Regions from separate parts of the Homo sapiens genome. Here regions 2 and 3 are each linked to region 1. Evidence: fine-mapped expression QTL. A gene starts in region 1. Each other region holds a variant in brackets. All regions are shown on one strand. Distances are from middle to middle. Region 1 holds the start of B3GALT2 (beta-1,3-galactosyltransferase 2). Region 2 overlaps CDC73 (cell division cycle 73). Region 3 overlaps CDC73 (cell division cycle 73).

Region 1 (4,248 bases):
TAGACTTCATGGTATTTGTATGTTTTAGATGTTAAGCTGTTGAGATATTAAATCCATATATAACTATAAATCTCCCATTGATAAATGAAGTGCATGTGTCTAGCCTTTAAAAAATTCCTTATTAAAAGATTCTCAGGTCTTATAAATTTTTTTGTTAAAAAGAATATAAAATTAAAATAACCATGCCTGCTTTTTATTAAATGATAAAATTATTCTCCAGTTATTGCCTGTTGTATTTTAATTCTTAAAAAGAGAGAGCAAAACAAGAAAGTTCAGTAGTATGCAAAATAGTTCTGCACTTTTACATTTTTAGAAGAGAAATAGCTTTGGTTTATCTCTTCTTTTTTGATATCTTCACATTATTAATGTGTATTTATAGCTTGTGGATGAAGTTCATGGGGAGAATGTTACTGTAAAATGCTGTTCAGTACACACTCAGTTTTTATCATTTGGCTTTTAAAAGTGTTGATCTCTTTAGTCTGTTGGTGATGGTTTAATAGAAAAACTTACACTTTTGTTTTGAGATGTATAGCTTATAAAACTGCTTAATTGGTGACTTCAATATTGAGAGATTAAGGTACCAAGAGGGACTTGAAATTTTTACAACCATATTTTTTAGTACTATTTATTATTAGTCTTTATTAGAATAAAAATTCATGGGTGAGAGTGATGTTGAGGTGTAATAGAGTCTGGTAAACTTGTTTAATCTTCATTTTGGAATGCAGTACTTACATATTTTTAAAAAATGTTTGCCTTTTGTGATTATTAGATAATTACTGAGTTGTGTTGTGAAATTGAGGAAAAATCAGGATCTTTGATAGATTTGTAGAATTTTAGAAATATCTTTAAGTTCTTGAGCCCTGAGTTGCTGTTCTATGATTGTTGCTAAAATAGTTTATTTGGTTTATCTGTGCCCTGCACACACATATAGTGGCGGTAGTTCATTACTGCATATTAATATAGCCTGGAAGCATAGTAGCTACATTTATATTTAATTTTTTGACCTTGTATTGCCATTTGTGGATATTTTTGTATCAAAGTATTTCCATATTATGTTTTTGAATTTCACTTCTGAAATGATAATCAGAGACAACGTTAAATTTGATCATTTGGAATCAGTCTTTTACATAAAATGTAAGCTATTTAAAATAGTTAATTTTTAAAGCCACTATTGATGTCCCTTTGTTTAAAGTTCTATTCATGGTCACTATAATAACACGAGGCTCTATTGTGGGGTTATGCATAAACTCACACTACCTTATGTGATCTTATGTTAATGCTTTCCTTTTAGTATCTTCTTGTAGCTTGGTAATATTTAAAATTTGTTGATACTCTCTTTGGTTGTGTTCATTATCTTCATTTAGGGAGATGTTGGGGAAGATTTTGTTACTAAAAGCTGTTACATATTAAGGTTTTGTTTTAAAAGGACTTTGAAAAAAAAACTCTTAAGGTTTTCCTTGCTACTATTTAATGAAATTTCACTGCATTGTGTCTTTTGATAGCCATTTTTAAGAGAGCATTTAATTTACTAGATAAGGATTCAGTTTGACCTAATTTGATAGAATATTGCTGTGTTTTTTGTAAAGGGCTACAGATTTTTTTTTAAGTTTAATTTCTTAAGGAATCCTTTAAACACATCTTCTTCTTATTTGCCTTTTCCCTCTGATGTCTATTACCCAGAATTACTCCAAGCTACATATTTAGCTGCATAAAGCAGTGACAGCTTGTCTTCTAAACAATGACAAATTTTAAAATCAGATATTAAGAAACCTTTTCATAGTTTCAAGGGCAGTGAGCTGTATGAACTTGCTTATCAGGTATTAGTGCCTCCAGGGCTATAAAAAGGTAACACATTTAAATGACTATCATACACAAGATATTGACATACCTTCCTTGGTCAGGCCATTTATGTGAAGAGGATTATGCCCACTGAAAATACTTTTGGCACGCCATCACTTCAGCAAAAAAGATGCTATCGAACATGCGCACATCCCCCAACAGTCTGCCTCCTGCGATTGCTTTTCACAGTATCCAAAGTGTCCATCTGTCTGCTTGTCTTCGAGTTACCCTCCTTGTTCATATGGGTCCTAGTCTTCTGAAATTTTCCCTTTCTTTCATTTTCTCTCTTTCGTTAAACAAAAGAGCTGTAGTTGCCCGTTCTGCTTGTAGCACTGTTGACTCTTCCCGACAGTTGATGCATTGAAGCTTTTTACATCTGCTATTTTCCTGGCTGGACAATGCAGTGCTGTGTTCTCGTCTCAGTATCCATATTTCTACTAATAACACTGAGCTGCAATGTAAAGCAGCCAGAGCTAAAATGTAGTGCTTCAGTTGTATTGGAAAAGAATAGGATTTACCTCTCTTCTTTCGTTGTTGCCTGGCAGCTGCAGGAAGGATTTTGAGCAGTTTTAATGGGGTTTTAGTCTATAATATGAAATCCACGGTTCCTCAGCTGCTGCACAGGCAGGCAGCAGTTTAAATGTGGGCTTGACAGATGCTCTCTCTGACAGAGCAGAATTTAACGTCACTGCTTGGCTGAATCCCACGTGATTGTTTGCATTCATTTTGACTAAAAACCTAAGGTAGGGAGAAGCTTAGAGATTTTGCTTTTATGTGATAAATTATATATGTTGAATGCAAGTGTAGTGATGAGTGAATAATTTGAAAATGTGATGATTATGAAATGGTTATGATTTTATTTTTTCCAGCTTACTTCCTTTTTTAACTTTATTCTTAAGTACAGGCTTTCTAAGTGTTTTCTGTGTTAGATGTTGGTTTTCATGTTTCTTACATGCTTTTGTAGGGTGTAAGCAGTATAAGCTTTTGTGTGTAAGTTGGTGTAATTTAACCCCTTCAGTGCATTCTCTTCTTGAAGTTTTTTTTCTCTGCTTTCAAATTGCTCTTGATTTTTTACTAATATGTAGTTAAGACCTATGGTTTCTATTGAAACCATGTATCTTTGTAATTTAGATCCCCCCCCCCGTTTTCTGGGGTTTGTATAAATAAGCTGTCTTGGATTACTTTACTAATGCATGATGTGATACAGCCCACTTCTTTTTTGCTCTTATGTGGTTTTTGGTGTTCTTGATGGCAGAAAACTTTATTTTAAATCACTTTTTAATGTTGTCATTTATTTTTTATTTATTTTTCCTTCCCTTTAAAATTACATGTATCGTAGAATTCAGTAAAATGATGTAATAGATATAGCACACTTGTACAGGATCTGGGGGTAATGAGATTTTACTAATTATGTTTACTTATTCTAATGTTTCAGAAAGATTTAATAACTTGCCATGAGGCAGATTTTATTAACACTACACACTCACTGAGATTTTTCTAATATGGTTAGTTTCTGGGGCTGGCACCTTCTTTTCTTACTGCAGAGCAGTAGGGAAGGTTTTTTTAAATTTTTTGTTGTAGTAAAAAGCCTTTATTATCAGTTTTTCCTCTGTGACTCTAGGGACAGTAATTCAGTCCTAGAAAGTTATAGTTTTGGAGCTTAAGCTAAAGGTTAACAGTTATATACATATTCTTCATCTCACTGCCTCCACCATTAATATATGCTATTTCAAATGAATATGAATTTGTTTTCTCTGATATTAAAAAAAATTTTGTCCACATATTTTTGAGCTTTGCTGATGAAATGTGCTTTGTAGTTTTAAGAACCCCACTGTATTAGAAATGTTAGAAGGATCGTTAAAGAAAAAAAAGAATTTTATAAATAGGAAACCTAAAGCCTAGACTGAGCTTTGACTTTTCCTAGTTAAGTTTGAAGGAGAGGACTAAAACCCAACTTCCTTGTAGTCTATATCCACCCATACTGCAATTCTCACTCACTACCGTTTTGTTTTTAAAATTAGTTTACTAGTTAACAGAGTAATGCTTAAGAACTTACTTAAAATAACTTATTTTCCAGAAGTACAGATGTGTTTTTGTAGATCAGTATTTATTTATCAGTGATTCTTTACATAGGATTTGACTATGAAGCTAGCCACAATGACCATTTATGGAGTATTTACTGAAAATCAGATTGCGTGCTAAGCTTACTTGAGCTGTTATGCAAATGGCTCTTTTCTAATAATTTTATTATTGTAATACCCACTTAAAAGATGCAGAACCAGTGCCTGGAGTTGTAAAATAGTCCAAATGTCAGATAAATACTGATAAGAATAGAGGCCAAGCTGGGAATTGAAGCAAGATTATCTAAATTCTTATCCTCTGTGTTTTTGTTTTCTTTTTAAATCTATC
Region 2 (4,248 bases), 39 kb after region 1:
TATCTAGATACTGTTGTTCTTGCTGCAAATTCAAATGAGGTCAGTTTTACCATTTGAGATATTTGATTTTCCTTGCAGTTGTCAAAATAAGGGTAGGGTTAGGGTTGGGGTTGTTGGGGAAGAGGGTGAACAGTGAGTTTATTTCTAGTTTACCATTATGTTGAACTTAACCCCTGAGTCTCAGCTTTATAAGGGAAGGAACTCTTATTAGATTTTCTACCTTGAGCAGAATTTGGACTTATTTTCTATTTCAGGAGCCCAGTGAAATATAGTGAAAAACCAGGCTTAACTTTAATTGGTTTGCAAATCCAATGAATAGCAGTCTGCAGTGTTGTTCTTACTTCTTTGGGTTCCTCTCTTTTCACTTGGTCTTTGGTCTAAGTATTTTTTATACCTTGCGCTAGCTCAGATAGGCTTTTAAGATTTTTTTTCTTTTTTCCTTTTTTTTTTTGTATTGATACGTAATAGACCCACATATTTTGAGGTACATGTAATATTTTGACACATTTTTATAATATGTAATAAATCAGGGTAATTAAGATATATATTACCTTAAACATTTATCTTTATGTTGGAAATATTCAAATTATTCTTTGATAGCTATTTTGAAATATACTGTAAATTATTGTTTACTGTAGTCACTCTGCTGATTTATTGAAAACTAGGTCTTATTTCTTGTACCTGTATTTCTGTACCCATTAATCAACTTCTATCTCCTCCACTCCCCCACCCTTCCTGGTCTCTGATAACTACCAGACTACTCACTTCATGAGATTTACTGTTTACTTGTTTTTTTTTGGGAATTATTGTTGCAGTTACTTAGGGGATCTGTCATATTATACGAGAAACAGCATAAAGTCATAGTTTTTAAGGGTCATAATTTGTTAGTGTTTACTCAATGCCATTGTTCCATGTATATATATATATATATGAAATATGCATTCACATATACACATATATGAAATATGCATTCACATATACACATATGAAATATGCATTCACATATACACATATGAAATATGCATTCACATATGCACATACGAAATTTATGCATTCACATATACACATATATGAAATATGCATTCACATATACACATATATGAAATATGCATTCACATATACACATGTGAAATATGCATTCACATATACACATATATGAAATATGCATTCACATGTACACATATATGAAATATGCATTCACATACACACATATATGAAATCATTCGCATATACACATATATGAAATATGCATTCATATATGTACATATATGAGTACAAGTGCCATAATTTCCAAATGGTGGTCTCAGAGCACTTAGAAATCTTACATGGTTTTATCAAAATAATTATTTCAGACCAATTTTTTAGCTCAACCAATGTTTGAGGATGCTGAATGTGTTTTCTTTTTTTTTCTATTGTTTTAAAGATTTATTATGTTGCCTAAATTTATCTTCTTACCTTTTGTCTTTAAAAAAAAATTTATTTCCACAGGTTTTTGGGGAACAGGTGGTATTTGGTTACATGACTAAGTAGTTTGTGAGATTTTGGTGTGCCCATCACCCGAACCGTATATGCTGAACCTGATTTGTAGTCTTTTATCCCTCACCCCCCTCCCACAGTTTCCCCCTGCATCCCCAAAGTCAATTTCGTCATTCTCATGCCTTTGCATCCTCATAGCTTAGCTCCCACTTACAAATGAGATCATTCGATGTTTGGTTTTCCATTCCTGAGTTACTTCACTTAGGCTGATAGTCTCCAGTTCCATCCAGATTGCAGCAAATGGCATTAATGCCTTCCCTTTTATGGCTGAGTAGTATTCCATGATATATATATATATATATATATATATATCCACATACTACGGTTTCTTTATCCGCTAGTTGATTAATGGGCATTTAGGTTGGTTCCACATTTTTGCAATTGCGAATTGTGCTGCTGTAAACATGCGTGTGCAGGTATCTTTTTTGTATCATGACTT[C/T]TTTTCTTCTGGGTAGATACTCAGTAGTGGGATTGCTGAATCAAATGGCAGTTCTTCTTTTAGTTTTTTAAGGAATCTCCACACTGTTTTCCATAGTGGTTGTACTAGTTTACATTCCCACTAGCAATGTAGAAGTGTTCCCTTTTCACTTCATCAATGCCAACATCTATTGTTTTTTGATTTTTTGACTAGGGCCATTCTTGCAGAAGTAAGGCAGTATTGCATTTTGGTTTTGATTTGCATTTCCCTGATCATTAGTGATGTTGAGCATTTTTTTCATATTTCTTGGCCATTTGTTTATCTTCCTTTGAGAATTGTCTTTTCCTGCCCTTAGCCCACTTTTTCATGGGATTGTTTGTTTTTTTCTTGCTAATTTGAGTTTGAGGTAGATTCTGGATATTAGTCCTTTGTCAGAGGTATAGATTATGAAGATTTTTCTCCCACTCTGTGAGTTGACTGTTTACTCTGCTGACTGTTCCTTTTGCCGTGCAAAAGCTCTTTAGTTTAATTAGGTCTCAGCCATTTATATTTGTTTTTACTGCATCTGCTTTTTGGTTCGTGGTCATGAAATCCTTGCCTAAGCCGGTGTCTAGAAGGGTTTTTCCTGTGTTATCTTCTAGAATTTTTCTAGTTTCAGGTCTTTGTCCTTGATGTGTTTCAGGACTTAAGTCCTTGACCCATCTTGAGTTGATTTTTGTATAAGGTGAGAGATGATCCAGTTTCATTCTCCTACATGTGACTTGCCAATTATCCCAGCACCATATGTTGAATAGGTTGTCCTTTCCCCACTTTATGTTTTTGTTTGTTTTGCCAAAGATCAGTTGGCAAAATACTTACAGTTGGCTGTAAGTATTTGGGTTTATTTCTGGATTCTCTATTCTGTTCCGTTGGTCCTTGTGCCTATTTTATACCAGTGCCATGCTGTTTTGGTGACTGTGTCCTTATAGTGAAGAGAAGAGAATGAAATGAAGAGAGTGGATATCTTTGTCTTGTTCCAGTTTTCAGACAGAACGCTTTAAACTTTTCCCCATTCAGAACTACGTTAGCTGTGGGTTTGTCATAGATGACTTTTATTGCATTGAGGTATGTCTCTTGTCTGCCAATTTTGCTGAGAGTTTGAATCATAAAGGGATGCTAGATGTTGTCAGATGCTTTTTCTACATCTATTGAGATGATCATGTGATTTTTGTTTTTAATTCTGTTTATGTAGTGTATCACATTTATTGACTTGTGTATGTTAAACCATCCCTGCATCCTTGGTATGAAACCCATTTGATCATGGTGGATTATCTTTTTGATATGTTGTTGGATTTGGTTAGATGTATTTTGTTAAGAATCTTTGCATCTGTGTTCATCAGGGATGTTGGTCTGTAGTTTTCTTTTTTGGTTATATCCTTTCCTGGTTTTGGTCTTAGGGTATTACAGGCTTCATAGAATGATTTAGGGAGGATTCTCTTTCTCTATCTTGTGGAATAGCGTCAAAAGGATTGGTACCAATTCTTCTTCCAATGTCTGATACAATTCAGCTGTGAATCCTTCTGGTTCTGAACTTTTTTTTGTTGGTAATTTTTAAATTACCATTTTAATCTTGCTGCTTGTTATTGGTCTGTTTAGGGTATCCAGTTCTTCCTGATTTAAGCTAGGAGGTTTGAATCTTCCCAGGAATTTATCCATATATTCTAGGTTTTCTAGTTTTTGCATGTAAAGTTGTTCATAGTAGCCTTGAATGATATTTTGTCTTTCGGTGGTGTCAGGTGTAATAGCTCCCATTTTGTTTATCTTTTCAAAGAACCAGCTTTTTTTGTTTCATTTATCTTTTCTATTTTTTTATTTTTGTTTCAATTTCATTTAGTTCTGCTCTGATGAGAATGCTACATGTAAAGCAGCACACTGGTTGGTGTGCCATATATCTGAGCGATTGGCTTTGCCTTCAAGAAAACTGTTGTCCAGGTCTGGCGTGGTGCCTCATGTCTGTAATCTCAGCACTTTGGGAGGCTGAGGTGGGAAGATTGCTTGAGCCCAGGAGTTTGAAGTTTGAAACCAGCCTAGGCACTACAGCAAGACCTCGTTTCAAAAAAAAAAGAAAGAAAAGTTACAAGAATGGAAACCTGAAGTCTGTTAGGGAGATAACAGACTTTGTAGATTATCATAATAATAATTTTAAAAGCCCACTGTAAAATTGTAGAAAATTGAATTCTACTTTGAATAAAAAAGGTAAATTCATAGTGAAATACATATGGCTTAACTTTAGAATTAAATAAATGCCTAAATAT
Region 3 (4,248 bases), 21 kb before region 1:
ATCAATCCTGTAATCATTTACCTCCCCAAATTTGGTATTTTTGGAGAGATGCTCCAGTTTTTCTACAGTGTCTTTTTGTCATTTCTGTCTTATGTGTGGTGCCATAAATATTCTGGAATTGAATTCCTAATATATTTCATTATACCAAACTTGAGAACTAAAATAAAGCAGCTTTTTGATCTTTCAGAAGTTACTGAATTCTTACTTGTGTTCTATAGATGGCTTTTAGAAAATAACACCCCATTCAGCTTCTGATAGGATTATAATATTTTAGTAACTTATCTAGCTACACAAGGTATTTCACAATATCCTTAGGAATTACTGAGTTTTAGAGTGACAGAATAATTACCAATTATTCTGATAGTAAATTTGTAGGTACATTATAATTCATCAAGAACTTTGTGGGGTTGTGTGTGTGTGTGTGTGTGTGTGTGGGTGTGTGTGTATATTTTTTTTTTCCCCCTCCTAGAAAAGTTAACAGGCTGGGCGCAGTGGCTCATGCCTGTAATCCCTGCACTTTGGGAGGCTGAGGCGGGTGGATTCCTTGAGCCCAGAAGTTCGAGACCAGCTTGGGCAATTTGGCAAAATCCCGCCTCTACAAAAATATTCAAAAATTAGCCGAGCGTAGTGGTATGTGCCTGTAGTCTCAGGTACTCAGGAGGCTGAGGCAGGTAGATTGATTAAGCCCAGGAGGTCAAGGCTGTAGTGAGCCATGATTGCGCCACCACACTCCAGCGTGGGCAACAGAATGAGACCCTGCCCGCCCCCCAAAAAAAGAAGTTACTTTAAGAAGAAACTTCAAGAACGTAACTATTTAAATAACTTGATATTGGAAAATATTTTTCTTTACCTAGGTTAACTGCAGTAGACATAAATCATCTAATACTTTCTAATAAATTGATAGGTACCAATTTTGGGGCACCTGTGATAGACATTTGTATTATTTCTAACTTTCTGAGTCATCATTAATATTTTTGAAAAGTTTGTATAACTTTTAAAGCTTTAAACATCAGTGTAAAAAGGCTATAGTATAGTAGATTTTTTTGTTTTTTGAGATGGAGTCTCACTCTTGTCACCCAGGCTGGAGTGCAGTGGCGTGATCTGGATCAACTGCAACCTCCGCTTCCCAGGTTCAAGCTGTTCTCCTGCCTCAGTCTTCTGAGTAGCTGGTATTACAGGTGCCCGCCACCACACCCAGCTAATTTTTGTACTTTTTAGTAGATGGGGTTTCGCCATGTTGGCCAGGCTGGCCTTGAACTCCTGACCTCAAGTGATCGGTGGCCTCCCAAAGTGCTGGGATTGCAAGCATGAGCCACCATGCCCAGCCCAGTATAGTAGATTTTACAAAACTATGCTTCATTGTGTCATACTGGCAGTATTACATTTACATTTTATATTAGAAACCTCTTGTAGATCATCGAAGACTAGTCCATAGTACATAGTAACTGGTTCTAAGTGACTGAATAATTTCAGTCAACATATTTTCTGTGTAACAGATCAAAGGAGAAATAACTGCTGGTGATGAACAGCAGTGTGGAGGTTTTGTTGCCTATGGTTGATCAGCTGCCTGAATCCTGAGTTGTCTCATAGGGTGGCATTATGTTAGTAATTTGCTGTAGCCCAGAGAAAGGCTGAGAAACTAAGTAATGTTAG[T/C]ATACCATGAGAAACTGATTCATTTTAATTAAGCTTATGAGAGTAGCATTTGAAATCAAATGCTGATTTATTAATTTGCAGTGATAAATGTAATTAACAAGGGCACTGGATTCTCACCTCTAGCACATAACATGTTCTCTGTGTAAAGCTACATTGGAAATCACAGTGTACTGTGCAATGAGCATATAATAAATTATATCCTTCAAATGTTTAGTGGTATTAAAGTAGTCTGTTATTTTTAACTCTTCATTAAAAAAAAGGACTTGTTGCAAGTCCAGGGTACCTTTCCCCTTGGGCACTGCTTAGATAGGTTTTGATTTGCCATTGTGATTTCTATTCCTTGTTGTGTCTGACTAATCCCTTGCCAGATGGATATGATGTGTTATTTCTTTAGATGTATAGATTACTGAGTCAACTTTAGGACTGTGTTTCATTCCATTCTATTTGATTTGTTAAAAAGTGTTGGTGAGGGAACTAGCTCTTTTGAATTTGGGATTTATAATGTAGATATCCAAAGGATCTGATTTATCACAGGAGAGGTGAGGAGCGATAGACTGACCTTTCTGCACGTTTGAGCTGTAAATTTAGGATTAGTCACATTTAGCTTTGTTGATTTGGAAGGGGAGAGAAGAGCAGGGATTTCCTGCTGGGTTTTGGAAATCTTTCTTTCTTTTTAAAGAGATGAGGTCTCACTACGTTGCCCAGGTTGGACTTGAACTCTGGGCTCAAGCCATCCTCCTGCCTTAAGTACCTGAGATTGCAGGTGTATGCCACTTTCCTCAGCATGGAAATCACTTTCTCTACCTTTCACTTATTACAGGTTGATAGTCAAATTAATGAGGCTCCTTAAACCTCACCCTCCCAATTAGTAATTTCAGTGCTGCAAAGACATTACAATTTAAGTGTTTCTTAGCATTGTATAAAAGTACTTAAGATTCAGAATGCAGTCAATATGAGTAAAAAATCAAATATGGTTAAAGTGCAAATAAAGTAGTATCATTGTAAAGTACAAATAGAGAAGTATAAAGAAGACTTTATGTATCAGTAGATAAGTAATAATTATATGTTGGGATGAACGTTTTACACAGTCTCAGGATGGACACATTAAAAAATTCTGCTGTGACATATTTGAAAGACGTGAAGATACATACAGCATAAATGCAAAGCATGAAATATTTTTCATAATTGGTGGATTGTGTAAAAGTTTTGTTTACATTTTACTCATTTGATTGTATTTACATAAAATGTATTTAGTGAAATTACCAGAACCATTTTCAGTAATAGAAGAAAATAATTAGTCTTTTTCTCTCTTTCACACATGGATGCATGCACATGCATTCGTATCTCTCTCTCCCTCCCACATATGCATAAAATTGATCAAAATGTGGTTGAGGTCTCCACTGGTACACTTAAGCTGAGCATGCTAACATTTGGTCTGTAAGGAACAACCTACCATTTTTATATGTGCCCTTATTTACTTACACTGTATTGATATTTGGTGTTTGCCCATAAAAATAAGCCAGCCATCCTTTCACTATGAGTTTTACATGTAAGTTCTGTTATGCCTTGTAATTTTAGGTTGACTTTGTTAAAAAACAATTATCAAGTTAGTCATAAAACCTAGTTTCCAAAACCAGTGTTTGTTATCTAAGCTGAACTCTTAGAAACTTTAATGTGAAATTATTTTTAATGATAATATAAAAATGAAGAGTCAGGTATGAGCAAAAGTAAGTAATATAGCAGGAGTTTGTATAGTTTAAGTGCATTTTTTTTTCTTTCTTTCTTTTTGGAAACAGGGTCTTGCTCTGTCACCCAGGCTGGAATGTAGTTGTACAGTTAGAGCTCATTGCAGCCTTTATTTCCTGGGCTCAATCACTGCTCCCACCTCAGCTGGGACCACAGGCATGCACTGCAATGCCCAGCTAATTTTGGTATATTTTGTAGAGACACGGTTCACTGTGTTGCCCGGGCTGGTCTCTAACGATCCTCCTGCTTTGGCTTCTCAAAGTGCAGAGATTACAGGTGTGAGCCACTGCGCCCAGCCTTAAGTGTGTTTTCATTATTGCCTTACATTTTTTAGTCTACAGTGATTTAAAATGGTTTAAATGTAATGATTTAAGTTGGGGATTGACAAACCTCTTCTTTAAAGGGCCAGAAACTAAGTACTTTAGGCTTACAGGCCGATAGACAAAACCACGGAAATTATGTAGGTGCTTATGTAACAAGAGATAAATCAAATTTTCACACTTTTTTTCTTTTTTTTTTTTTTTGAGACCGAGTTTTGCTCTTGTTGCCCCTGGAGTACAGTGGAGCTATCTTGGCTCACCACAACCTCTGCATACCAGGTTCAAGCGATTGTCCTGCCTCAGCCTTCCCGAGTAGCTGGGATTACAGTTATGCGCCACCACGCCCGGCTATTTTGTATTTTTAGCAGAGACGGGGTTTCTCCGTGTTGGTCAGGCTGGTCACAAATTTTTAATGACAAGTACAATGCATGATAATAATGTGCAATACTGATTTGATAATGAGAATAATGGAATTTCTTTTTGGGTGTGAGGGAACATTTTGCTTAATTGAAGTTCCAAGTTAGTGTTC

What was found. PIP is the estimated chance that this variant, and not a neighbour inherited with it, causes the effect. A credible set is the group of variants that fine-mapping cannot tell apart.
Region 2: its variant is the best candidate, but not a certain one, in a credible set for the expression of B3GALT2 in whole blood (TOPMed, PIP 0.51).
Region 3: its variant is the best candidate, but not a certain one, in a credible set for the expression of B3GALT2 in whole blood (INTERVAL, PIP 0.87).

What each region holds. Positions count from the first base shown.
Region 1 is chr1:193,184,131-193,188,378 of GRCh38, forward strand. It overlaps B3GALT2 (beta-1,3-galactosyltransferase 2), which reads right to left and starts at 2,483. Exons shown (of 2, transcript NM_003783.3): 1 at 1,889-2,483. All of the region lies in intron 10 of CDC73 (cell division cycle 73), which reads left to right.
Region 2 is chr1:193,223,426-193,227,673 of GRCh38, forward strand. All of the region lies in intron 13 of CDC73 (cell division cycle 73), which reads left to right. Among named protein-coding and RNA genes, the nearest start is that of B3GALT2, 39 kb to the left of the region's middle. The variant C/T (reference allele first, on the strand shown) is at 1,976.
Region 3 is chr1:193,162,744-193,166,991 of GRCh38, forward strand. All of the region lies in intron 10 of CDC73 (cell division cycle 73), which reads left to right. Among named protein-coding and RNA genes, the nearest start is that of B3GALT2, 22 kb to the right of the region's middle. The variant T/C (reference allele first, on the strand shown) is at 1,654.